2 linked regions of the Homo sapiens genome follow. The protein of the gene in region 1 interacts with the protein of each later gene in a pairwise test. Each region holds a gene or a part of one and is shown on either strand. Other genes may lie near its edges.

What was found.
Region 2: the proteins of LARP6 (region 1) and ITSN2 interact in a two-hybrid assay, tested with the Homo sapiens proteins (2 studies listed by BioGRID, with this or other methods).

The regions. Positions count from the first base shown.
Region 1 is NC_000015.10:70,840,788-70,853,025, forward strand, and holds part of LARP6 (la-related protein 6), read right to left. Parts: intron 10,934-12,238; coding exon of another isoform or gene 10,852-10,933; exon of another isoform or gene 10,659-10,851; intron 1-10,658. UniProt on the Homo sapiens protein: Regulates the coordinated translation of type I collagen alpha-1 and alpha-2 mRNAs, CO1A1 and CO1A2. Stabilizes mRNAs through high-affinity binding of a stem-loop structure in their 5' UTR.
Region 2 is NC_000002.12:24,291,679-24,303,916, reverse strand, and holds part of ITSN2 (intersectin-2), read left to right. Parts: intron 1-54; coding exon 55-118; intron 119-1,814; coding exon 1,815-1,952; intron 1,953-2,677; coding exon 2,678-2,763; intron 2,764-3,745; coding exon 3,746-4,008; intron 4,009-5,102; coding exon 5,103-5,252; intron 5,253-8,112; coding exon 8,113-8,253; intron 8,254-10,141; coding exon 10,142-10,229; intron 10,230-12,238.

The sequences.
Region 1 (12,238 bases):
GGTCCTACTCCCAGGACAAGTTAGTCCTACTCCCAAACTAGAGCAATAGATGCTATTACAAAAGGTAAACTCATAAACAAATAAAGCATAATAGAAGGAAGGCAGTATAATTTCTCTTTTCTCTCTTTTTTTTTTTTTTTTTAAGAGACAGAGTCTCGCTCTTTCGCCCAGGCTGGTCTGCAGTGGCACTGTCTCGGCTCACTGCAAGCTCCGCCTCCTGGGTTCATGCCATTCTCCTGCCTCAGCCTCCCGAGTAGCTGGGATTACAGGCGCCCGCCACCGCGCCCGGCTAATTTTTTGTATTTTTAGTAGATACAGGGTTTCACCGTGTTAGCCAAGATGGTCTCGATCTCCTGACCTCGTGATCCGCCCACCTCGGCCTCCCAAAGTGCTGGGATTACAGGCGTGAGCCACCGCGCCCGGCCGGGCAGTATAATTTCTCAATCTCTCTAATGCTTATTCCAGAGCTTCCCAATCTTCCCAAGGTCGGCCATGTCTGCTTTACTGCCTGCAGATGATTCTATCTCAGACTGGATGGAGAGGATAGAGTTCATCCAATCAAGCTTCTCTAGACCTCCGTTGGGCAACTCCTTCTCCCTTTTCCTAACCTTCGCTCCAGCTTGTTCTGTGTCTCTAGACATCCATCAAAGAACTTGTAGCCATATCCAGGTGTCTCTTCTCCATCTTGGTCCTTGATATAGTTTGAATGTATGTCTTAGGCAGATCTCACGTTGAATTGTAATCCCCAGTGTTGGAGGTGGGGCCTGGTGGGAGGTGATTGAATCATGGGGTCGTTTCTCATGAATGGTATAGCACCACTCCCTTGGTGCTGCCCTCTTGATAGTGAGTTCTCATAAGACCTGGTCATTTAAAAGTATGTGGTACTCCCTCCCACCCCCACCATCACCAACTCTCTCTCTTGCTCCTGTTTCTGTGATGTGATGTGTCTGTTCTCCCTTCACCTTCCACCACAATTGTAAGCTTCCTGAGGCCTCCCCAGAAGTGGATGCTAGTGCCATGCTTCCTATACAGCCTGCAGAGCCAAGAGCCAATCAAGCCTCTTTTCTTATAAATTACCCAGTCTCAGATATTTCTTTACAGCAATGCAAGAATGGCCTCACACAGTCTTCTTGCCCCTGATGCAGGATCTGACACTATTGACCACCTTCTTCTTGATACTCTCCCCCCTGGGCTTATGTGACTTACTCTTTTCTGATTCTTCTCCCCATTTTATGTCTCCTCTTTCTCTCTCCATTTCTTTTCTTTTCTCTTTTTGAGACTGGATCTTGCTCTGTTGCCTCAAGTTGGAATGCAGTGGCATGAACACAGCTCACTGCAGCCTCAGCCTCCCAAGCTCAAGCAATCCTCCCATCTCAGCCTCCCAAGTAGCTGGGGCTATAGGAATGTGCCATCATGCCTGGCTAATTTTTCTGTTTTTTTTGTAGAGATGGGGTTTTGCCTTGTTGCTCAGACTGGTCTTGAAACCCTGGGCTCAAGTGATCCACCCACGTCAGCCTCCCAAACTGTTGGGATTACAGGTATGAGCCACCATGCCTGGCCTCTCTCCTCATTTCTAAGTGTAGGTGTTACCCAATAATCTATCCCTGACACTTTATCCCCTAGCAACCTCTACACTTCAGCTCCTATAAGCTCATCAAATTCAAATCTACCCCCCAGCCTGTCCACCGCCCCACACCTTCCTCTCCTTCCTGAGCTGCAGTCCTCAATTCCTAACTGCATGCCAGACATTTCCACTAGGACAATCTGATGTAGCATCAGATTAAATATGTCCACAATCTAACTTCTCACCTTCTGCAGAACCTGACCTCAGGCAGGACTGAAGCCTGGGCCCATCAATAGGCATTCTATCTGGGAAGCTGACCTTCCTTTCACACAGTCTCACAGTAGACTATCCATAATGTATTGGGGGTGACTCTGCATCAATTATTTGCACCCACTGAGCAGACAGGCAGATAGCCAGAGATTCCAGAACAGGTGGATGATACTGTGGAGGTGATATAAACCCCTATACGAGTGCAGAGGTGAGCTTCTTGTGCTTGGAGGACTCCACCCTCTGCATGAGTGCTGTCAGCAGCAACTATGCATCTCCAAAGGGGGATCTTGGGGGAGTTGAAAAGCCTATGTTATATCCAGGAGCAGGCTGCATTGTTTCCTGTTTGTGAAATAGCCTTCAAATGGGAAAAGATACCATATCTTTTATGAATATTAATTTTATATCCTTTAAACCTGAATATTGTCAACTTATTGCCGATTACAACCATCCTGTGACAATCATTTATCTTCCCTTCCAACCCACCCCCCAACTACTTTCCCTATTCACTCTTCTATGTACTTAAGCTCAAGACCTAGGATGTGTCCTTTCACTCTCTCTTTTGCCCCCACATTTAGTCAATTATAAAGTGCTTATTTCATTTTGCAGGGTCTCCCATCTGTTCTCTCTTTGCCATTCCAACCATCCTCATTATTTCTCCCTTGGATACTTATTAATAGCTCATCAAAACATTTTTCCAAAAAATTAAAGTAATAGATAAACATAGCAAAAACTAGAATAAAATAGTAGGGAACTTATAAAGAAATCAACAATTCCCCATTCCACCTTTCCTCCCTAGAGGTAACTTCTCTTCAGCCATTTAATTCTTAGGAGAGTTATCTCATAGCTCTATAAAATATGCTTATAGCTCTATTTCTCACTTGCCAACCGTAGTCATTCTCTATTCATGTCTTACTACATAAAATGAGTATTTGGGGTCACTTATGACTTATGTCCCTAAATAACCCCTTCTTCAAATTTTCTTTTAGTTTTGGTTCTTCTATTAGCCTTTTATTTATGGTTTTGGTGTCTTTTTTTTTTTTTTTTTTTTTTTTGAGACGGAGTCTCACTCTGTCGCCCAGGCTGGAGTGCAGTGGCATGATCTTGGCTCACTGCAACCTCTGCCTCCTGGGTTTAAATGATTCTTCTGTCTCAGCCTCCTGAGTAGCTGGGATTACAGGCGCACGCTGCCACGCCCGGCTAATTTTTTGTATTTTAGTAGAGACAGGGTTTCACCGTGTTGCCCAGGCTGGCCTCAAACTCCTGAGCTCAGGCAATCTGCCCACCTCGGCCTCCCAAAGTGCTAGGATTACAGGCGTGAGCAACCGCGCCCGACCTTTTTTTCTTTTTTTTTTTTTAAGACAGTCTCACTCTGTCGCCCAGGCTGGAGTGCAGTGGTGCGATCTCGGCTCACTGCGACCTCTGCCTCCCAGGTTCAAGCAATTCTCCCACCTCAACCTCTCAAGTAGCTGGGACTACAGGCACACACCACCCCACCCAGCTAATTTTTGTATTTTTAGTAGAGACAGAGTTTCACCATGTTGGCCAGGCTGGTCTCAAACTCCTGACCTCATGTGATCTGCCTGCCTCAGCCTCCCAATGTGCTGGGATTACAGGTGTGAGCCACCATGCCCGGCCCTATTTGTGTTTTAAAATAATATACTTTAAGTGGTTTCTTATTCCATAAACATTAAAAAGTATTTTTCAATTCCTTGCTACGTGATATATTAATACACACTATTGTCCTACTCTCTCTTCCATCTCACCTATTTCCAACCTTCCATATTGCATCAGATGTACTTTTATTTCATTTTGCCATGGTTCATAATATTTCATTCCATTCGGTAACTAATATTCTATATTTTATCTATAGATACATACTGAAAGTTGAAAGTCAATCAGTTGTATTTTATTATTATGACTATGTAAACACTGTTCCCTACAGGGCTAAGTCATTTGCTAAGATTACATTTCTTGTCTCAAAGTCCTATTAGTTGACTGACCACCTGGATTGGTCCTCTATGTTTATTTTTTCTTTCATATGCTCTGTCTTTGTCTTTGTAATTTACACACTAAGAGATTTCTTTGACATTATATTCTAACCTTTCCTACAGAATTTTTAAATTTTAGTAGTTATTTATTTAGTTTCTAAGAACTGTTTTTGATCCTAGATAATTCCCTTCTAAGAGCTTCCTACTCTTGTTTTGTGGATGCAGTATCTTAAGTTCACTCTCAGGGTGCTAGTTGGAGTATACATTTTTGAGTCTTTTGTTTCAACATCATCACCTCTGTATCCTTTGGGGTCAGTTCTTCCATTTAACTTTCATGCCACTGATTTTCTTCAAGTGACTAAGAAATAATTCATTTTTTCTTTATTAAAGGGTTTAATAAACTTATTTTAGAATAGTTTTAGATTTACAGAAAAGTTGTGAAAATTGTACAGAGAGTTCCCATATATATACACCCAGGCTTGCTCTGTTATAAATATCTTGCATTAGTATGGTACATGTGTTACAACCAATGAACTAATTACAATTAGTTCATTAGTTCATTATATATTATTATTACCTAAAGTCCATATTTTATTCAGATTTCCTTAGTTTTGCCTATTGTCCCTTTTTCCGTTCCAGGATCCCATCCAGGACACCACAATACATTAACACATTAAGCTGTCATGTCTCCTGAGGCTCCTCTTGGCTGTGACAGTTTTCCTTGTTTTTGATGACCTTGACAGTGTTAAGAAGTACTGGTTAGGTATTTTGTGGAATGTCCCTCAACTGGGATTTTTCTGATGTTCTCTGTCATGATTAGACTGGGATTATGGGTTTTTGGCGGGAGGACCACAGAGGTAAATTTCCATTCTCAGCACATCCTATCAGGGTAGATGCTATCAACATGAATGATCACTGTGGATGCTAACCTTGATCACCTATCTGAGGTAGTGTTTGTCGGGTTTCTCCCCTGTAAAACCACTCCCTTTATCCCCACTCCCATACTGTGCTCTTTGGAAGAAGGCCACTGTACACAGCCCACACTTAGGGTGTGGGGAGTTATACTCCACAGCTATTCACTGTGAAGACAAAAGGTACATGCTGCTTTTTCTTAGTGGGTTGTATGGGTTCCCTCTGCAGTTGCACACTCCCACTGGTTTTCTTCCTAGATGGCTCTATGTACACAGGTGGGGCATGCCAAGTGGCAGGCTTCACATGAGGGTGAGCAGGCAGGGAATGATTAAGCTGGGGGCTCTACCCAAATGGCAAAGGCTTTACTCTGCGGCTGCCAGCTCTGCTTTCGCATCCCTAGATCTCCGTAGTGAGCTCATTCAATTCCTTTAGAAAATAATCTTGTCTCTTTTTTTTCCCCCTTAAAAATAAAATACCTGCTACTTTCCACTGGCAGACAGAAAGGCTAGGAAATTGTTCTAAAGGAAGAATTTAAATTACCTTTCAGATATTTGTAGCCCTTTTTACTCCTGCATCTTTGGTATATTTCCCAACCAGAGTCTTTCTAGGGTTCTGTCTTCCCACCTCCTGCCACCTCCCATGTTATATTTTAGGCTACAGCCTCCTCCACTCTGTGCCATATTACATGTTTTGAAGAACAGCTAGAGTATGTCACTGCTTTACTTGATGTCACTGATTTACTTTAATAATAATAATAAAAGCTTTTCTATTTCCTGTTAAATAAAATTCAAACTCTTCGGCTCCCAACCAGGCACGGTGGCTCACGCCTGTAATCCCAGCACTTTGGGAGGCCAAGGCCGGAGGGTCATTTGAGGCCAGGAGTTCGAGACTAGCTTGGGCAACGTAGCAAGACCCTGTCTCTACAAAAAATTTAAAAATTAGCCAGGTATGGCCGTGCACACCTGTAGTCTAGGCTATTTGGGAGGCTGAGGTGGGAGGATTGCTTGAGCCCAGGAGGTCGAGGCTACAGTAAGCCATGACTGCGCCACTGCACTCTAGCCTGAGTGACAGAGTGAGACCCTGTCTCAAAAAATAAATAAATACATACATACATACATACATACATACATAATAAAAAAAAAACCAACAAAGTCTTCAGCTCCTTATTCAGACTCATTTAGAATCTGGCTGTAACCAGCATCAAAACTTATTTCCATCGGTTTCCTTTCAGATCCTTTGCTCCAAACAAACAGAAAGACATAGTTATCTGTAAGTGTCACAAGCTTTCTGGACTCTGTGCCTTTGAGCTTGCTGTTCCTGTCTCTGAATGCCTTGCTCCTCTCTCTCGGGTCTAAATTCTAGTCACACATTAAGGTCCATCTTAAATGCAATTCTCCTAGGAAGAAAAAATCATTTCTACTTCTCCCAACACTTATCTATATTTGTATTATAGCTACTTGTGTGCACATTTTATTAGCAGCCCGAACACTGAGTTGAGAGTAGAACTCAAGCTGGTTTCTTTCATTATAGTATTACCCCAGAGCCTTGCATGTAATGGGAATTTAAAAAGTATCACCAATGTAAAGCAAATAGTTTTGAGGGCAAATCATACCTATCAGGATCCTTTGAGGGAGGAAGTATGGTTTCTGATGAATATGCTCTTAGTGGCCTTTCAAGGAGGCTTGAAAAAGTTTTACACTTAAGGTTTTGCTTTGTTTTGTTTTTTAACAAAACATTGTAAACTGGGAGTGATGAGGTCTTTTGTTATAGCTATAAACCTGTGAGAAATGGGTAGAAATAAAGGGGTACATTTTAAAACAGGTAATTGGGTTCCATGAATCAGTGCTGAATTTTTTTTTTTTTTTAAATATGTTGTCTCACTCTATCGCCTAGGCTGGAGTGCAGTGGCACTATCTTGGCTCACTGCAACCTCTGCCTCCTGGGTTCAAGCGATTCTCCCGCCTCAGCCTCCTGAGTAGCTGGGACTACAGGTGCGCACCACCATGCCTGGCTAATTTTTGTATTTTTTAGTAGAGACAGTGTTTCATCGTATTGGCCAGGCTAGTCTCAAACTCCTAACTTTGTGATCTGCCCACCTTGGCCTCCCAAAGTGCTGGGATTACAGGTGTGTCATATTTGTAAATGATTTAGAGAAACAAAAGGATTTGTAGCATAAAACATCCAAGGCTACTTTTTTCATAAAATATCGAATCTGGTTACACTGATTGCGCAGTTAATCGAATGATACCCTATAGGAGGAGAATATCCAAACTAAGATGGTGGAATAATGAGACCCTCACTACAGCTTTCAATCCAGGAATGATTTTTCAGACTCATTGTCTATCATTGCAGATGGTGGAATATGGTATTTTGACCACCAAGACCAAGAAAATGGTGGACACCAATAAGGAAGGTACCAAACACAAAAACATCATTTATGAAAAACACTAGGGTCCAGGTCCTGTCTGTGTGAGATTTCTTTTGACTCACCTCTAGAACAAGATAATGAATGTGAAATGGTTCAAAAAGGGCAAATTGATAATGCAATATAAAAACACCAGGGCAGATTCAAAAGATAAGGATTTTTCACTGAGACAGATTGAAAACATATACAGGTATGTTCTCAACTTTGTTAAAGGCATCACCCTTTTACAAACCATATTTTGGATGGTGCTAGCAGGGGGCACATGTTATGCTTGCGTGGCCCATGGGTTCTTATATATTTATTACAGAGACATGAACTTCCTCTCTGACCCTGTCTTCTGCCATGCTGTTCTGGCATAAGCCTTTGAGCCTGGGAAAGGGATATACAACTAGTGGATGTCTCCATGGGTCTAAATAATGATTCGTAGTTTGGAGTAGAGACTACGTATATCAGGCACTTAGTTCTACATCTGACAAAAAAATTGACATTAATAAAAAAGCAGAGGCCAGGCGTGGTGGCTCACGCCTGTAATCCCAGCACTTTGGGAGGCCAAGGTGGCCAGATTACTTGAGGTCAGGAGTTCGAGACTAGCCTGGCCAACATGGTGAAACCCTGTCTCTACTAAAAATACAAAAATTAGCCGGGCATGGTGGCAGGTGCCTGCAATCCCAGCTACTCGGGAGGCTGAGGCATAAGAATCACTTGAACCTGGGAGGCGGAGGTTGCAGTGAGCCAAGATGGTGCCACTGCCCTCCACCCTGGGTGACAGAGCAGGACTCTGTCTCAAAAAAAAAAAGTAGAGGCTTTCATTATCACCATCCAAAGCAGGGAAAAGACAGCCTGTACAATGTCCCAAAAACATCATGGAAAAAAAGAGAAACCTAGAAGATTGTGTTGTTAAATTAAAAGCAGGTGGCTCAATGGTTTTTATTGTTCATATTAATATTTAATATTATAACTTTGAATCATTTTTACACATTGTAATACAAAGAAAATAAGTAATTATGTTAATGTTATTAGGAACCAAGATTTTCAGTATAATAAATAAAAGAAGTAAACAGCAAAAATCCTGTAATGTAAATTTGAATTGGAATTATTGATATAAGTGTTTTTTAAAAAACATATTTCTTGGCCGGGCATGGTGGCTGACGCCTGTAATCCCAGCACTTTGGGAGGCCAAGGCAGGTGGATCACGAGGTCAGGAGTTTGAGACCAGCCTGGCCAACATGGTGAAATCCCGTCTCTATTAAAAATACAAAAATTAGCTGGGCATAGTGGCAGGCGCCTGTAATCCCAGCTACTCAGGAGGCTGAAGCAGGAGAATCGCTTGAACCTGGGAGGTGGAGGTTGCAGTGAGCCAAGATCAGGTCATTGCACTCCAGCCTGGGCGACAAGAGCAAGACCCTGTCTCAAAAACAAAACAAACAAACAAACAAACAAACAAAAAAATATATATATATTTCTTAGTTCTGTCCACTGAAAGGCTCTGAAAGCAACAATACCCTGGCAGAAGTTAGCTTTCCTAATTCCAGGTCTTAGTTTCTAAATACTTTCTTACTGGTATTTGAAAAAAGCAGAGATTACTGTGGAAATGGCTGAATTCCATGACTGGAGTAGGAAAAGTACAAATTATGCCTGGAATACTAGTACCAGAAAGCAAAGAAGTGCTTAAAGACTAATGGGCATGTTACAAAAAGACACAAGGAGGCCAGCTTCAAGGGGGTCTGCTGGCTGCAATATAGACATTTTGAGCACCAAAAATGACTGTGATGAATTATTAAAAAGTGAATAAATACAAATCTATGAATTGGAGAGAGAGGAAGAGTATAAGCTTGAGGAAGAGCCCTCATTTAAATTATTTAGTGTGACTATTATATCAAATTATCTCTTTGAAAACTGTAATTAAAGGGAAATAATTAAGCATTTTTTTGCCTCTTTAGGAGAAACTTTTGTTCAATCCAGATGATGAGACAAAGCTTTTTTTAAAAAAAAATAGAGCAATGCTGGCTAATAAGTGTACAAAAAATGTGAAAATTAGAAAATCCTCAATTTCCAGTCCCCAGTGAAATAACCAACTTAGGTAAGGATCATCAATAGATGCTAAAATAATTAGGTGAAAAGTCATTGGGGAAAGAATATTGCAAGAGGAATGGAAAACTTGGAAGAAATGCATACATTCCTAGAAACATGAAACCTACCAAGACTGAATTATGAAGAGACAGAAAATCTGAACAGACCAATAACAAGTAAGGAGATTGAATCAGGAATCAAAAATCTCCTATCAAAGAAAAGCTCAAGGCCTGATGGCTTCATTGCTGAATTCTACTAAACATTTAAAGAACAACTAATACCAATACTTCTCAAACTCTTCTAAAACTTTGAAGAGGAGGGAATGCTTCCAAACTCATTTCACAAGGCCAGCATAACCCTGATACTAAAGCCAAACAAGGAAAACTATGGGCCAATATCCCTGATGAACATAGATGCAAAAATCCTCAGCAAAATATTAGCAAACTGAATTCGACAGCATCTTGAAAGGATCATTCACCAAGATCAAGTGAGATTTATCCCTGGGATGCATGCATGGATCTACATATGCAAATCAATAAGTGTGATACATCAACAGAACCCAGGATGAGAAGCCCACAAATAACTTGTTAACTGCAAAGGGAAAGACAACCTGTACGATGGAGAAATCTCCTTAATCGAATGGTCAAATTTAGCATCACTAAGGGTGGGATGGCTCCTGAAGTGATGGAACATCAAGTTCCAGGCACAGAGTATGAGGCATTCTTGACAAAAGGTTTAAACAGAATCAAATCAAAACCTTAGCCCTATCTTTCAGTTTATAAGAAGCACATGGTACAAAGGAGCAAGTAAAATAAGATCATGAGAACATTACCAGACTAATCCAAAATGTGAGACATTCAACAAGATGTCTGACCTCTTCTGTCCAAAATAGCAAAGCATTAGGGAAAAAAAATGGTGGAAATTTCTAGATTAATAGAGTCTAGAGACATAAGAAGCAAATGCCTCAACCCAGACCATATTCTGGTTTGAGGGGAAAAAAGAAACAGCTGTAAAAGACAATTGTGGCACAATTTGGGGAATCTTGAATGTGGAACTTGGCTATTAGCTTATCTTCAGGATTATATTAGGGAATGATAGTTAATTTTCTCAGTTGCAATAATAGTGTTAGGGCTTTATAGGGAATGTCATTAGGAGTTACAAAATGAAGTATTTAAGGTATAATCTTGTGTAAAACATACCTCAAATGGTTCGGGGAAAACACATACATTGTATATCCATTCACCAAATATGGCAAAATGTTGTGTTAAATCTAGATGATGGGTATATGAATGCTCATAGTACTATTTTTTCATATTTTCTTTATGTTTGAAAATTTTTATGTTAAAAAGGTGAGAATAAAAGGAAAGGCATCTTTTTAATGAAGGAGATGTGGGGAGATGATCAATAACATTTTAGAGGCTGTAAAGACTTTTCTTTATTGTTCATTTATTCTGTTCCCTTATATAAGCTAGGTATTAGGCTAGGTATGGAAATACAAAAAGGAATAAGATAAGGCAGCTGCCTTCAAGGATCTCACTGTCTAGGGAAGGGGAAACACAAATATCTCAACACCATTGAGTGAGTGTGATGATAGAGATACGCATTCAGTCAACAAACATGTCCTATGTGCTGGGTGCTGTGCTAGGTGCTGAAGATACAATGAACGAAGCAAGCATGGTCCTTGAATTCACCGAGCTCCTATTCCTGTGAGGGAGACACAATGATAGAATCACAATTGTGGAAGGTGCTAGGCATAAAATGTACAGAGTACTACAGCAACAGAGAAGAAAGGAAACACAGCCAGCTCTGGGGTGGGGATTGGGGGTGGTGGAGAAGAGGCAGCGAAGTTTTAAAGGCTGACTAGAAATCAGTCAATCAGAGGACCTAGAGGTGGGGGTGCAGAGGCATGTAGACACAAAATAGCCCCCTATGCTCAGGGAACTAGCTGGAATCACGGGAGCGTGAACTGTTGACAGCGTGAACTGTTGAGGCAATGGGCTGAGGAGATGATGTGAGTGGGTGTCACATCTTAATGAGCAGATTGAGGAATCTGGGTTTTCTCCTGTAGGCTCCAGGAGCTGAGAACATTCACATCGGGTGATGGCTGCTGCCATGCGAGCCTGGGTCCAAACAGGGGATAGTGTGGATCCTGTTCTTGGCTACATCTCCTCCTGCTCTGGGTGCCTGCCCACTGGGCTCTGTCAGCTCACCGAAGAACCCCAGGGATTTTCTGGGGTCAACTCTATGCCAGTGGGCAGCAGGAAGGGCTTCAGACTGAACACTTGCTGAGACTCAAGCCACGGGAGCTGGGCAGTTCTGGAGGAAGAGCAAGAGGGGTTCAGGCAAGAGGCCTACCCATACTGAGGCTTGGTTTCTCCTAGACCTCCATAGGGGATCTTTCCAGGCCTTAAACATAAGTAGAGCTTTAATCCTGGCTAATGATACAATCTCACAAATTTAGCCCTCAGGATAGGGATGGCTATTTGCCACTGCCACAGGAAAATAAAGTTATAAGGATAAACCACTTGGGGCTATTTTACATACTCTGATATTGTCTGACTAGGGGACTGCCTTCTCGAGACTGTGAGCTGTCAGTGACTAAGGGTTCATCATTTTTATGCTCTCGGTACTTGGCACAGAGCTAAACGAATCAGGCCTTGCATTATAAAGCACTGATCTATCTACTTTGTCATACACTATGGTCCAGCTTTCCTGCCCTACCCTGGTGGGCTGACTTTTCTCCCCTAACAACTGTCTCTACTGGTCTGCCCCGAATCTCTGGGTCCAGAAGTCTGACCCTTTAACCTGGGGAAGGGTGAGCCAGTAATAGAGAATGGCTCTGGGCCCAGTATTCTTCCACCCTTGAGTTGAGTATTCTCCCAGTGAAGTAGATATACGCTTGCCAGGACAATCCTGCAGAACCTTAACAGCTAAACGCCTGGGACAGGGTCCTAGAAGAAAGAGAGCTCCTAATAAGTGCCTGTTGGCATCCACCAGAATGTGCAAGTT
Region 2 (12,238 bases), on another chromosome or scaffold:
GCATAACTTTAAAGATGCTAAAGAATTCCTTTATGATTTTCCCCACTTAATCAGGTTTTCAAGCTAGAAATGCCCTTCTTCAGTCAAATCTTTCTCAAACTCAGCTGGCTACTATTTGGTAAGTTTGTCCCTTAATTACATTTGATTAATTTAACTATGCATTAATTAATTAAACTCTCTCTCCCCTATTACAAGAAAGATACTGTTTCTGTAAAAGTTTGTGACTCAGAGATGCTCTATAAAAGCAGCCATTTGAAAGTTAGTATTAAGCTTGGAGGCAAATGTAATTGTGCAGAATGTTGTTGTACCCTTAAGCTACACCAAATTTACAAAAAATATTTTCTTCAACAATAGATTAATCTTGGCATACAATAACTTTTTAACTTTGTAAACCTTTTAATTTTTTAAAACTTTTTGACTCTTGTAATAACACTTAGCTTAAAACACAAACACATTGTACAGAAAGATATTTATATCCTATTCTTTAAGCTCTTTCTTGTTTTTAAAATTTATTTTTACTATTTAAACTTTCGGTAAAAACTGAGACACAAAGACACCCATTAGCTTAGGCCTGTAGAGGGTCAAGATCATCAGTATCACTATCTTCTACCTCCACATCTTGTCTCACTGGAAGGTGTTCGGGGCAATAACACGCATGGAGCCATTGTCTCCTATGATAACAATGCCTTCTGGAATTTCTCCTGACTGACCTGCCTGAGGCTGTCTTACAGTTAACTTTTTTTTTTCTGTAAGTAGAAGGAGTATACTCTAAAATAACAATAAAAATAAAGTATAGTAAATACATAATCCAGTAATATATTAACAGATGTTTATTGTTATTGAGTGTATGTACTGTAGATAATTGTATATGCTGTACTTTTCTACAGCTGGCAGTGCAGTATGTTTGTTCAGACTAGCATCACCACAGACACATAGGTAATGCGTTGCTTTATGACAGCTACAGTGTCCTTAGGTGGTAGGAATTTTTCAGCTCCATTATAATCTTATGGGACCACCATTATAAATGCAGTCCATTGTTGACTGATATGTCATTATGCAGTTCATGACTATATTTTACTAGAAAAACTGTTGTTTTCTTTCATCTAATCCCTTCTATGGAGAATCAGAGAATATCTTGTTTTTAATATAGGTAAATGTGATTTGGTAGGTGAATTAACCATGGAGTAAGACAAGCCACTTTCTCAGAAGGGGTAGTTACTTCTCTTTCTGTTTCAAAGTTTCTTCCCTCTCTTTTATGTCTTGAAAATCAACGGTAAAAAATTAATTCACTATTGAAGTACATACTTACATACTTACATTCAATAGTGAGTTACGTAAATGTACGTATTTACATTTCACTAAAATAAGTGTACCCAGCAGTTTTACCATCATTATCCTTCTTTTAAAAATAAAAAATTGGCCGGGCCCAGGTGGCTCACGCCTGTAATCTCAGCACTTTGGGAGGCTGAGGCGGGCGGATCACGAGGTCAGGAGATCGAGACCATCCTGGCTAACACGGTGAAACCCCGTCTCTACTAAAAATACAAAAAATTAGCCAGGCGTGGTGGCGGGCGCCTGTAGTCCCAGCTACTCGGGAGACTGAGGCAGGAGAATGGCGTGAACCCGGGAGGCGGAGCTTGCAGTGAGCTGAGATCGCGCCACTGCACTCCAGGTTGAGCGACAGAGCTAGACTCCATCTCAAATAAATAAATAAATAAATAAATAAATAAAAGTAAAATAAAAATTGAACTTTTAAGGCAATATTTTACTCCAAATAGACTTTATTAAGTTGTGAATTTTAACATTTTCTTTAGGACTCTGGCTGACGTTGATGGTGATGGACAGCTAAAAGCAGAAGAGTTTATTCTTGCAATGCACCTTACTGACATGGCCAAAGCTGGACAGCCATTACCACTGACTTTACCTCCTGAGCTTGTTCCTCCATCTTTCAGGTGAGTGTGCCTGGAGGTGGAGAACTATGGTTTTGATAACTTGGCAGATGTGATTTAGAAGAGAGTTAAATATTTGCACTGCCATTGATTTTAGTATTCAACAAGTTATACTTGAAAAGGGTACATATTAGAAGTAGGTGTGGGCCAGGCGTGGCAGCTTACGCCTGTAATCATAACACTGGGAGCCAAGGTGGGAGGATCACATGAGGCCGGGAGTTCAGGACCAGCGTGGACAACATAGTGAGACCCCGTATCTACAAAAATAAAAATAATTAGCCAGGTGTGGTGGTGTGCGCCTGTAGTCCTAGGTACTCTGGAAGCTGGGGCAGGAGGATCACTGGAGCATAGAAGTTCAAGGCTACAGTAAGTTGTGATTATGCCACAGCACTCTAGCCTGGGCAGCAGAGCAAGACCCTGCCTCAAAAAAAAAAAAAAAAAGAAGTGGATGTGTTTTCATTATGTTATACATAAGGAGGCTAATGACTAAAGAGATAAAGAAAAACTTGCCCAAGAACCAAAATTAGCTGAACTGTGATTTGAATCCAGATTTCTCTGTCTTGAATATCCATATACTACTGTATTTTGTAACGACATACCAAACTGTTTTAAATATCTTTAATACTGTATTCCCAATATCAAATTGCCATAATCACTGGTAGTCTGTGTAATCTAGTCTGAAAATGTCCAGACTACATGATGCTAACTTTGTTGTTTGATTTTTTTAGAGGAGGAAAGCAAATTGATTCCATTAATGGAACTCTGCCTTCATATCAGAAAATGCAAGAAGAGGAGCCTCAGAAGAAATTACCAGGTATCACTGAGTGTCAAAGTTGTATATTTATACTGAGTTCTTTTAAATTCTACCTTTAAATGTAATGGAATATTTAGAATTTTTATATTTTTAATATTTGATGTGCTATATGAGAAAAAACTATTTGATAGATGGGATGTATTTTGGTATTGATAAAATTAAGATGGTCAAAATGAGAAGAGTGTGAAGGAAGAAGAGACAGTTAGATGTATTTGACAGGATTATAGACATCTGAGTTAAAGTATTTCTCCTAATTTAGGCTGAGTTATTAGAGGAAACTTTGTAATGAAATCTTTACCTTTAAAAACATTTAAATATTGGTTGAAAGAATACATTTGTAGCTGTTTTAATATATTAGGATGTTAATGACATCAAAACAAATGTATAACCACACAGCTTTGATTGTCCTTGAAGAAGAGAAAAAAGTTGAAAAAGTTTTTTTTTTTTTTCCTTGTTGCCCAGGCTGGAGTGCAACAGCACAATCCCGGCTCACTGCAACTTCCGCCTCCTGGGTTCAAGCGATTCTCCTGTCTCAGCCTCCTGAGTAGCTGGGATTACAGGTGCCTGCCACTATGCCTGGCTAATTTTTGGTATTTTTAGTAGAGATGGGGTTTCACCGTGTTGGCCAGGCCGGTCTTGAACTGCTGACCTCAGGTGATCCGCCCACCTTGGCCTCCCAAAGTGTTGGGATTACAGGCATGAGCCACCACACCCAACCGAAAAAGTATTTTTATTGGCAAGTTTATAAAAATTATTTCTCTCTTGATTGGATTCAAACTTAAAAATTTGTTTTTCTAAAATTGAATATCCTTGAAGAAAGTAGATATTTTTCCACTTAGATTTGAGTTAAAATTATCCTTAGGAGAAGTATTCAAATACTGATAGCACTCAAATGATCACAAGGCATAAGTATATAGAAACTAGATTACAGGTTCTGTAGGCTGTTAATGTGTGTGGATGCTGATAGGCATACCTTGTTCAGTTACTTTTGAGGACAAACGGAAAGCCAACTATGAGCGAGGGAACATGGAGCTGGAAAAGCGACGCCAAGCCTTGATGGAGCAGCAACAAAGGGAGGCAGAACGTAAAGCCCAGAAAGAAAAGGAAGAGTGGGAACGAAAACAGAGAGAATTACAAGAACAAGAATGGAAGAAACAACTTGAATTAGAAAAACGCTTAGAGAAGCAACGGGAATTGGAGAGACAACGAGAGGAAGAAAGGAGAAAAGACATAGAAAGACGAGAGGTTATTTTTAAGTTTTTTACTTCTTAAGAAAATCATTACATTTAATAAGTGACTATATTTCATTTGATTAAAAAATGCTTATTTTTGAATTTTTGTTTTGCCTTTTGCTCTGCATCATTTCATTCTTACCCTATACAAATCTGATCATTCCTTCCCTTGAGGAGGGAAAGAGGCTTCTTGCTTATAAGGAGTTTTCAGAACTGGTACGTGGTAGAGAAAGCATCCTCTGCAGGTGATATCTCAATCAAAGGAGGATCGACTGCAGAGCTAAGTTGAGTGAGGAGCTAAGGTTAGTTAGGCAACTGAGCAAGTCATTAGACGAAAGCAAGTTTAAGATCCAGATTAAGAGTCCAAGGAATTGGAGAGACAGAAAGATGAGAGCTGGGCATTGAAAGTCTCTCTAGAGAGGAATCAAGAGGATGGGCTTGCACAGGCCTTTGGGATAGTGTTGCTGGGAAAGAAGGGTCCTTAGGAGGACTGGCTGTGTTTTAAAGGGCCAGGGATGGAGCACAGGAAGTTATTGCACACTGAAATAATATAAATAGAATTTTTCCCCCAGATACCAGAATAGAGGGAAAATTATTCCTGTTAACATTTATATTTATGAAGTCATTCTGTAACTTATTAAGAGAAAAATGACTGTAACAAAAGGATGGTCTTCCAACCTGGGCAACATGGTGAAACCCTCTCTCTACAAAAAGTACAAAAATTAGCCAGGTGTGTGGTGGTGTGTGCCTGTAATCCCAGCTACTTGGTGGGGCTGAGGCAGGAGAATCGCTTGAGCCCAGGTGGTGGAGGTTGCAGTGAGCCAAGGTGGTGCCACTGCACTCCAGCCTGGGTGACAGAGCAAGATGCTGTCTGGAAAAAAAAAAAAAAAAAAAAGATCTCGTGAAGAAATGAGAAAATATGATAGATGAAGCCACTTTCTTGGAAGTCTTTAAGCCCATTAATAAAACTAGATTTGCCTAGCTACCCTTAGGCACTAAAGCCACTAAGTGCTAAACTCTGCCTGACTTTTATTGTTGTCTTCCCAGTTTTTGAATCGTGCAAAATTTTTGATTTAAAAATTAAGTATAATTCCTTTTTTTTTTCAGGCAGCAAAACAGGAACTTGAACGACAACGTCGCTTAGAATGGGAGAGAATTCGGCGACAGGAGCTTCTCAATCAAAAGAATAGAGAACAAGAAGAAATTGTCAGGTTAAACTCTAAAAAGAAGAATCTTCATCTTGAGTTGGAAGCACTGGTATGGCTGAAGTTTAAGTGAAATTTATCTGAATGATGATGGAGCTACCTGTTGAAAAATGTAATTGTGGGCCAGGCGTGGTGGCTCACACCTGTTATCCTAGCACTTTGGGAGGCCAAGGCAGGCAGATCAACTGGGGCAGGAGTTTGAAACCAGCCTGGCCAACATGGTGAAACCCCATCTCTACTAAAAAAAAAAATTAGCCAGCTGTGGGCTGGGCATGGTGGCTCACTGTAATCCCAACGCTTTGGGAGGCTGAGGTGGGTGGATCACGAGGTCAGGAGTTCAAGACCAGCCTGGCCAATATAGTGAAACCCCATCTCTACTAAAAATACAAAAATTAGCCAGGAGTGGTGGTGTGCGCCTGTAGTCCCAGCTACTTGGGACACTGAGGCAGAAGAATTGCTTGAACCTGGGAGGCGGAGGTTGCAGTGAGCTGAGATCGCGCCACTGCACTCGAGCCTGGGCAACAGAGTGAGACTCCGTCTCAAACAAACAAACAAAAATTAGCTGGCCGTGGTGGGTGGTGGTGGGTGCCTGTAATCCTAGCTACTTGGGAGGCTGAGGCAGGAGAATCACTTGAACCCAGGAGGTGGAGGTTGCAGTGAGCCAAGATCGCACCACTGCACTCCAGCCTAGGTAACAGAGTGAGACGCCATCTCAAAAAAAAAAAAAAGAAAAATGTAATTGTGTTTTAAAATCTCTCGTGAATTAGTTATGTCTTAATGTCATTAGTCACATTTTCATATAAACAGACTGTACAATATGGTTTACTGAGAAAAGGATAATGACTCAAAATGCTGAGAATTATGTTGTAGCATCAGTTCAGACACTGATGAACCATGTACTCCTGGGCAAGACATTTCCCTTCTCTGTGCCTCACTTTTCCCTTGTCTGAAATAAAGAGTTGTGTTAGTTGAGTGATTTTCAGTTTTCAGATTGGTCTCTGTAAGATGGTCTGAGGAGGACTAAGCAGAGGCAGGAGAGGGGAAGCTCGGGCAGCAGAACAGTGATTTTCTCTCCCTAATTCTTCCCACGCTTCACAACAGAGAAGCTTGACATTTATGTGCTTTATGTTTCTTGGGGTTTCACTCAAGATTTGCTTGGAAAAAAAAAGATTCTACTATTAAAAAGACAACTGATTTGAAACTGCTGACCTAAATGATCTCTTACAGTTCCAGTTCTGCAGGATTGTAGTTCTTAGCTAATACTGGCCACTAAGCAGTTTTTACCAATCAGATGTTAGAGGGTCAAGTTGTTAAAAGACTTTGTTTGAAATGTGTGGTGAGAAGGTATAAAAGATCTGGCACTATTCTGCCACAACCCTAGAATCCCATGAGCCTACCCTGATCATATAGTAGGGTTTTACAAAAATGCATACCTAGTCATGTAGTAGAGCCAGATTTAGATCTTGTGTGATCATAGTCTAACATTTTATTTGGTTGATGACTTGAATTACATTAAAAATTATTTTTTTAATCATCACAATATCTTTAGTCAGAAATATATTATTTTATTCCTTCAAATGGATAGACATACATACCACAAGTATTAATCATGCCAGAGTACTACAAAACAGTTGTAAAAAACTTTTAACTCTCTTGCACTATTTTTATATATATATATCATCTTGACTATATATAATGGGAAGAGACCTTAAGATTGATTGTTTTTCCCTCAAGAACTGGTGCAACACATGAAGCACAGTAACACAGGTGAATGTGCAGAGTCTGGAAAGGTCCAGAGCCTATACGTATCCCATGTTGAGGATAAGAATGTGAGCTCCAGCAGAGATACACATGTTCCTTTCAGTGTATGTATTTCAAATATGAAACAGTCTTCAGTAAAACTTTTCATCATCAGTAAGTTTTAACCCAGGATGTCATTTCCCCTCACTCCACTGTATTAGTTTGGTAGGGCTGCTGTAACAAAATACGATAGGCTAGGTGGCTTAAACAACAGAAATTAATTTTTTCACAGCTCCTAAGATCTAAGACCAAGGTTAGTTAGGCTTAGTTTCTTGTGAGGCCTCTTTTGGTGGCTTGCAGGTGGCCATCTTTCATTGTGTCCTTATATGGTGTTTTCTCTGAGTGTATTTTATCTCTGGTGCCTTTTGTGTTCAGATTTCCACCTCTAATAAGGACACCAGTTAGATTGGATTAGGGTCCACCTGTATGACTTTGTTTAACCTTAATCACCTCTTTAAAGGCCCTGTCTCCAAATATTGTCACATTCTGAGGTACTGGGGCTTGGGACTTTAACATATGAATTTTGGGGGACACAGTTCAGCCCATAACCCCCCATGTCACCCTTCTTCTTAGGTCCCATTGAGAATCTCTGCTATTTGTTTGATTTCTTCACAGAAGAAGAGGAAAAAAGGAGAAGAATATTAGTATAGAACAGAACTGTTGCCAAAACGTTCCTCCTGGGCACTGTTTTAATTAGAGGAAATTAGATGGCCATATTTAGGGTAGAAATAGAAGTTCAGAGAAGGTAATGCCGAGCATCACATGCAAACATTTATTCCTCTTCATCATTCTTTGAGAGTGTCTCTGATATTAATATTGTTAATTAATATTGTCTAATGCTGAATTCAGAAAAAAATTCAATGTGTTATGTTTCTGCTTTCCCATACTAACATATGGGCTCTTGCACTCTGAGAATGATGTGTTTCCCACTAATAACTCGAGTTAACAGACACAACTCTGAAACACATTCCACTTGGTTTTAGGCATTTGTTTCAGGATGAATATGAATGATAACTGAGATTTTAAAATTTAACTAAAAATATTATTCTCCTTGTAGAAACATTTTCTATTAGCATTTTATGTTACTATATATTTATATGATCTTCCTATAGAATGGCAAACATCAGCAGATCTCAGGCAGACTTCAGGATGTCCGACTCAAAAAGCAAACTCAAAAGACTGAGCTGGAAGTTCTGGATAAGCAGTGTGACTTGGAAATTATGGAAATCAAGCAACTTCAACAGGAACTTCAGGTAAGTCCTTCACTGCTAAATTGTTCTTAAACATGTACAATTAATAGTTCTTCTGGGCTGGGCACGGTGGCTCACGGCTGTAATGCTAGCACTTTGGGAGGCTGAGGCGGGTGGATCCCCTGAGGTCAGGAGTTCGAGACCAGCCCAGTCAGCAGGGCAAAACCCCGTCTCTACTAAAAATACAAAAAAATTAGCTGGGTATGGTGGCGCATGCCTGTAATCCCAGCAACTCGGGAGGCTGAGGCAGGAGAATCGCTTGATTCCGGGAGGCAGAGGTTGCAGTGAACCCAGATCGCACCACTGTACTCCAGCATGGATGATAGAGCGAGATTCCATCTCAAAACAAAACAAAACGAAACAGTTCTTCTAATAGAGTTTTGTTTTGGGGGTCAATAACCTTGAGTCTTTGATAGGCTTGTGATCTAAATACACGCAATCCTGTATACAATATCAGGAAGTCCATAGACCTACTAAAACTCTGCTAGACGTCTGGTTAAGTTTTGCTTAATATATATACGTAAGTGGACATTTATCACTTTGAGTTTTAACTCTTTAACAATGTTTATGCATTCTTAATTCATTACTTGCTATAACAAACGACCTTAGACTGGGTAATTTATAAACAACAGAAATTTATTACTCATAGTTCTAGAGACTGAGAAGTCCAAGATCAAGGTGTTAGCAGATTCAGTGTCCGATGAGGGCTTGCTGTCTCCTTTAAAACTAGTGCCTTCTTGCTGCGTCTTCACATGCAGAAAGGGTAAGGCAGTCCCTTCAACTTCCTTTATAAGGACAGTCATCTCATTCATGAGTGTGGAGCCTCCTAAAGCCCTACTTCTTAATAGTACTGCATTGGGAGTTAGGTTCCAACATATGAATGTTGGGGACATACCAACATTCAGACCATATCATACATTAAAATAAGGTTATTGCTACTAATTTTAGGAAATTTTGACTTAAAGTTATTCTTTTTAAAATTATGATGAGAACTTGAATATGTCCCTTGGGGTCCTGGTAATTCTCTTCCTTACTTGTGCAGTAGGGTCTGGTTCAATAATTACTATTTGCAGAATGGGGCTGTGGAAGCATTCTGCATCTCTAGAGTTCTCTTACCCAATTTCTCTTACTGCATGGACTGGCAATTAATCAGTCTTTTTGCTTTGTTACAGGAGAGATAAACAAAAGCCAAAAATATTTTCTGTCTGATTTAAACCTGCTTTCCTAGTTTTTAGTCCTTTTTATTTTTTCCTCCCTCTGTCACCCAGGCTGGAGTGCAGTGGCATGACCTCAGCTCACTGCAACTTCTGCCTCCCAGGCTCAAGCAATTCTCCTGCTTCAGCCTTCTGAGTAGCTGGGATTACAGGCACCCACCACCACGCCTGGCTAATTTTTGTGTTTTTCGTGGAGACGGGGTTTCACCATGTTGACCAGGCTGGTCTTGAACTCCTGACCTCAAGTGATCCACCTGCCTTGGCCTCCCAAAGTGCTGAGATTACAGGTGTGAGCCACCGCACCCAGCTTTTAGTCCCTCTTTGATATACACATATTCATCCTGAAGTATCATGGCATGCTTACACATACCATCTAGCGCAGGTCTGCTGTCATTCATCAGTAAGCTGAAAATTGTAGGCTTCTAGACACACCCCATTTACAAAGGCTTTCTTCACTGCCTTTTAATTTCAGCCAGTCACTCAAAATTGATTTTGGCTTAAATATTTCTTGGCATAATTCCATTCTAGTTGATTCATAAGTTGTAAGCAGTTTACAACTATGTATTATTTCTAAAATAAGTTTCAAAGATGAGTAAATCCTGTTTTAAAGTTTTCAAAAAAAACTCTTGGACAATATTATAACATTGTAATCAGGTACTATTTTTTCTTTTTATAAGGAATATCAGAATAAGCTTATCTATCTGGTACCTGAGAAGCAATTATTAAATGAAAGAATTAAAAACATGCAGTTCAGTAACACACCTGGTAAGTCTCTAAGGTTTGTCTGATTACTTTTATCCTTTTCTGAATGACTGTATCAGTCACATTGTTACTTTTTTAAAATTAAAAAAAGTATTCTGTTATAAATAACACTTTTTGCCTGTAAGTTTAAAGTTTCAAAATAAAGTGAAAAATATCCCAGATGTTAGAGCATTTTTAGTGATAAAAAGTAGATAAAAATAAAATAGTAATGATTGTGGTATGACTTCATATCTTGATGATATTTTTATGTATATAATTGAAACATCAAATAAAGTGTTAGACTATAAGATATAAATTTGGCTCTAACACAAGACTACATGTGCATTTTGAAAAGTCCTGCACTGATTTTAAAGAACTGTTCAGGAGGAGGCTTTATGGTGGGGCCGCACCTGGGATTCTAGGGTGTTAGCGTGCAGCAGTCATAGGCTTAAGCAGGATGGTATGCTCTGCCCAGACCCTTTATATTATCTAACTCTGTGCTTCATACAAAGAATTTTACCATCTTGGCCCTCTGACACCTGTGGAACAAAACATTCCAGGATAATTTATGGGATAGTAACTGTTTTTGTTTTTGCTCAGGTCCCAATGAGAAAACTGAAAAAAATTCTCTGTATTGGATACTATACCAATAAAAGCATAGCAGAAACAAGGTTTATTTAAAGAAAAGTAAATCTGCAGATGTTGTGTTACAACTGACTAAAGTATCCTAAAATGTCACTCATTGAGTCTCTATCAAGTCAATTATTCCATTGTAGGTCTCTTTATTATAGTTTTGGCTGTTTACAAAGTTCAATAAATAGTATCCCCTTCTTTGCGCAAGTTCTGAACAAATTAAGAAATAAGGCAAAGGAGCAAGACAAATGAGAAACCAAATCACTGCCTCATTATTGATGAAGCTGATTCTAGGCAGTGTGGTTTATCTGTGGGTGGTATAGTTGCACCTATAAAGCACTGGATGCATGAACAAAGTAGAATGCAGGTTTCCTGTGGGCAGTTAAGTCTCTAGAGAGTGAGGGCTTAGGAGGAGCCTAGGCTGTACATTCCTAGGTCTTTAACTTGAGCTCACTAGTTAGTGAAAGGAAGGAAAGAAGCTGGGATTGTTGGGCTAGTGCAGGGCCCTTCACGTGGAAGAAATATCAGAAATGAAGTTCACTCTTGTGAACTATTTTTATTGTGTCTCCTGCCTTCCATTGATGTGGTCTATCCATGTCCCTGCTCAGACAGTGTTCCTTATACTTGGTTCTTTCCTGTTCAAAGTATATTAGCCCCCACCTCACCCCTACACAGGCATTCCAGAGTCAGGGTGAGCTAACCCACCTGATATGCACAGTGGCAGAAATATATCTTTATTATTGTCATCATTGTTGTCATTGTTCCTATTTGAATTGTGAATAAAATGTAGAATATGTCTTATTGAGGACGTGATGGGGCTATTCTTTCTCTGTGGAATGTAATTCAGTGCAGCTGTTACCTATTTATTTATTTAGCCATAGTCCAATTCAAAATAGGAAGCTTTTGTTTGGGCTTTGAAAAGTACCCTGTATCCCTTAGATGCCTCTCTGTATAACAATTGCCATTTAAGATTACCAGCCATGTGCCAAGCACTGTGTGAGTCAGTTTTGATGCATTCTTTCCTTTAATCTTTACAATAACCCTTTGGTATAGTTATTATTCCCATTGTGAGCTCAGGAAAACTGAGGTTCAGAGAGATTAAGTAGTTACCCAGGATGGTACAATCATAGTACTCAAATTCATGTCTAACTGTAAAGCCCACTGTACTACCATGTTGTTTCTTTGTCTTATTTTCCAGTTACCCAACATAGTGCTCATATATGTCATCAAATTTGGTATTAAAACATGCATTATTAGTAATATACATTGTTATGAATAAAGCAGAAATATGGGCCGGGTGCAGTGGCTCATGCCTGCAATCCTAGCACTTTGGGAGGCCAAGGCAGGCGGATCACGAGGTCAAGAGATCGAGATCATCCTGGCCAACATGGTGATACGCC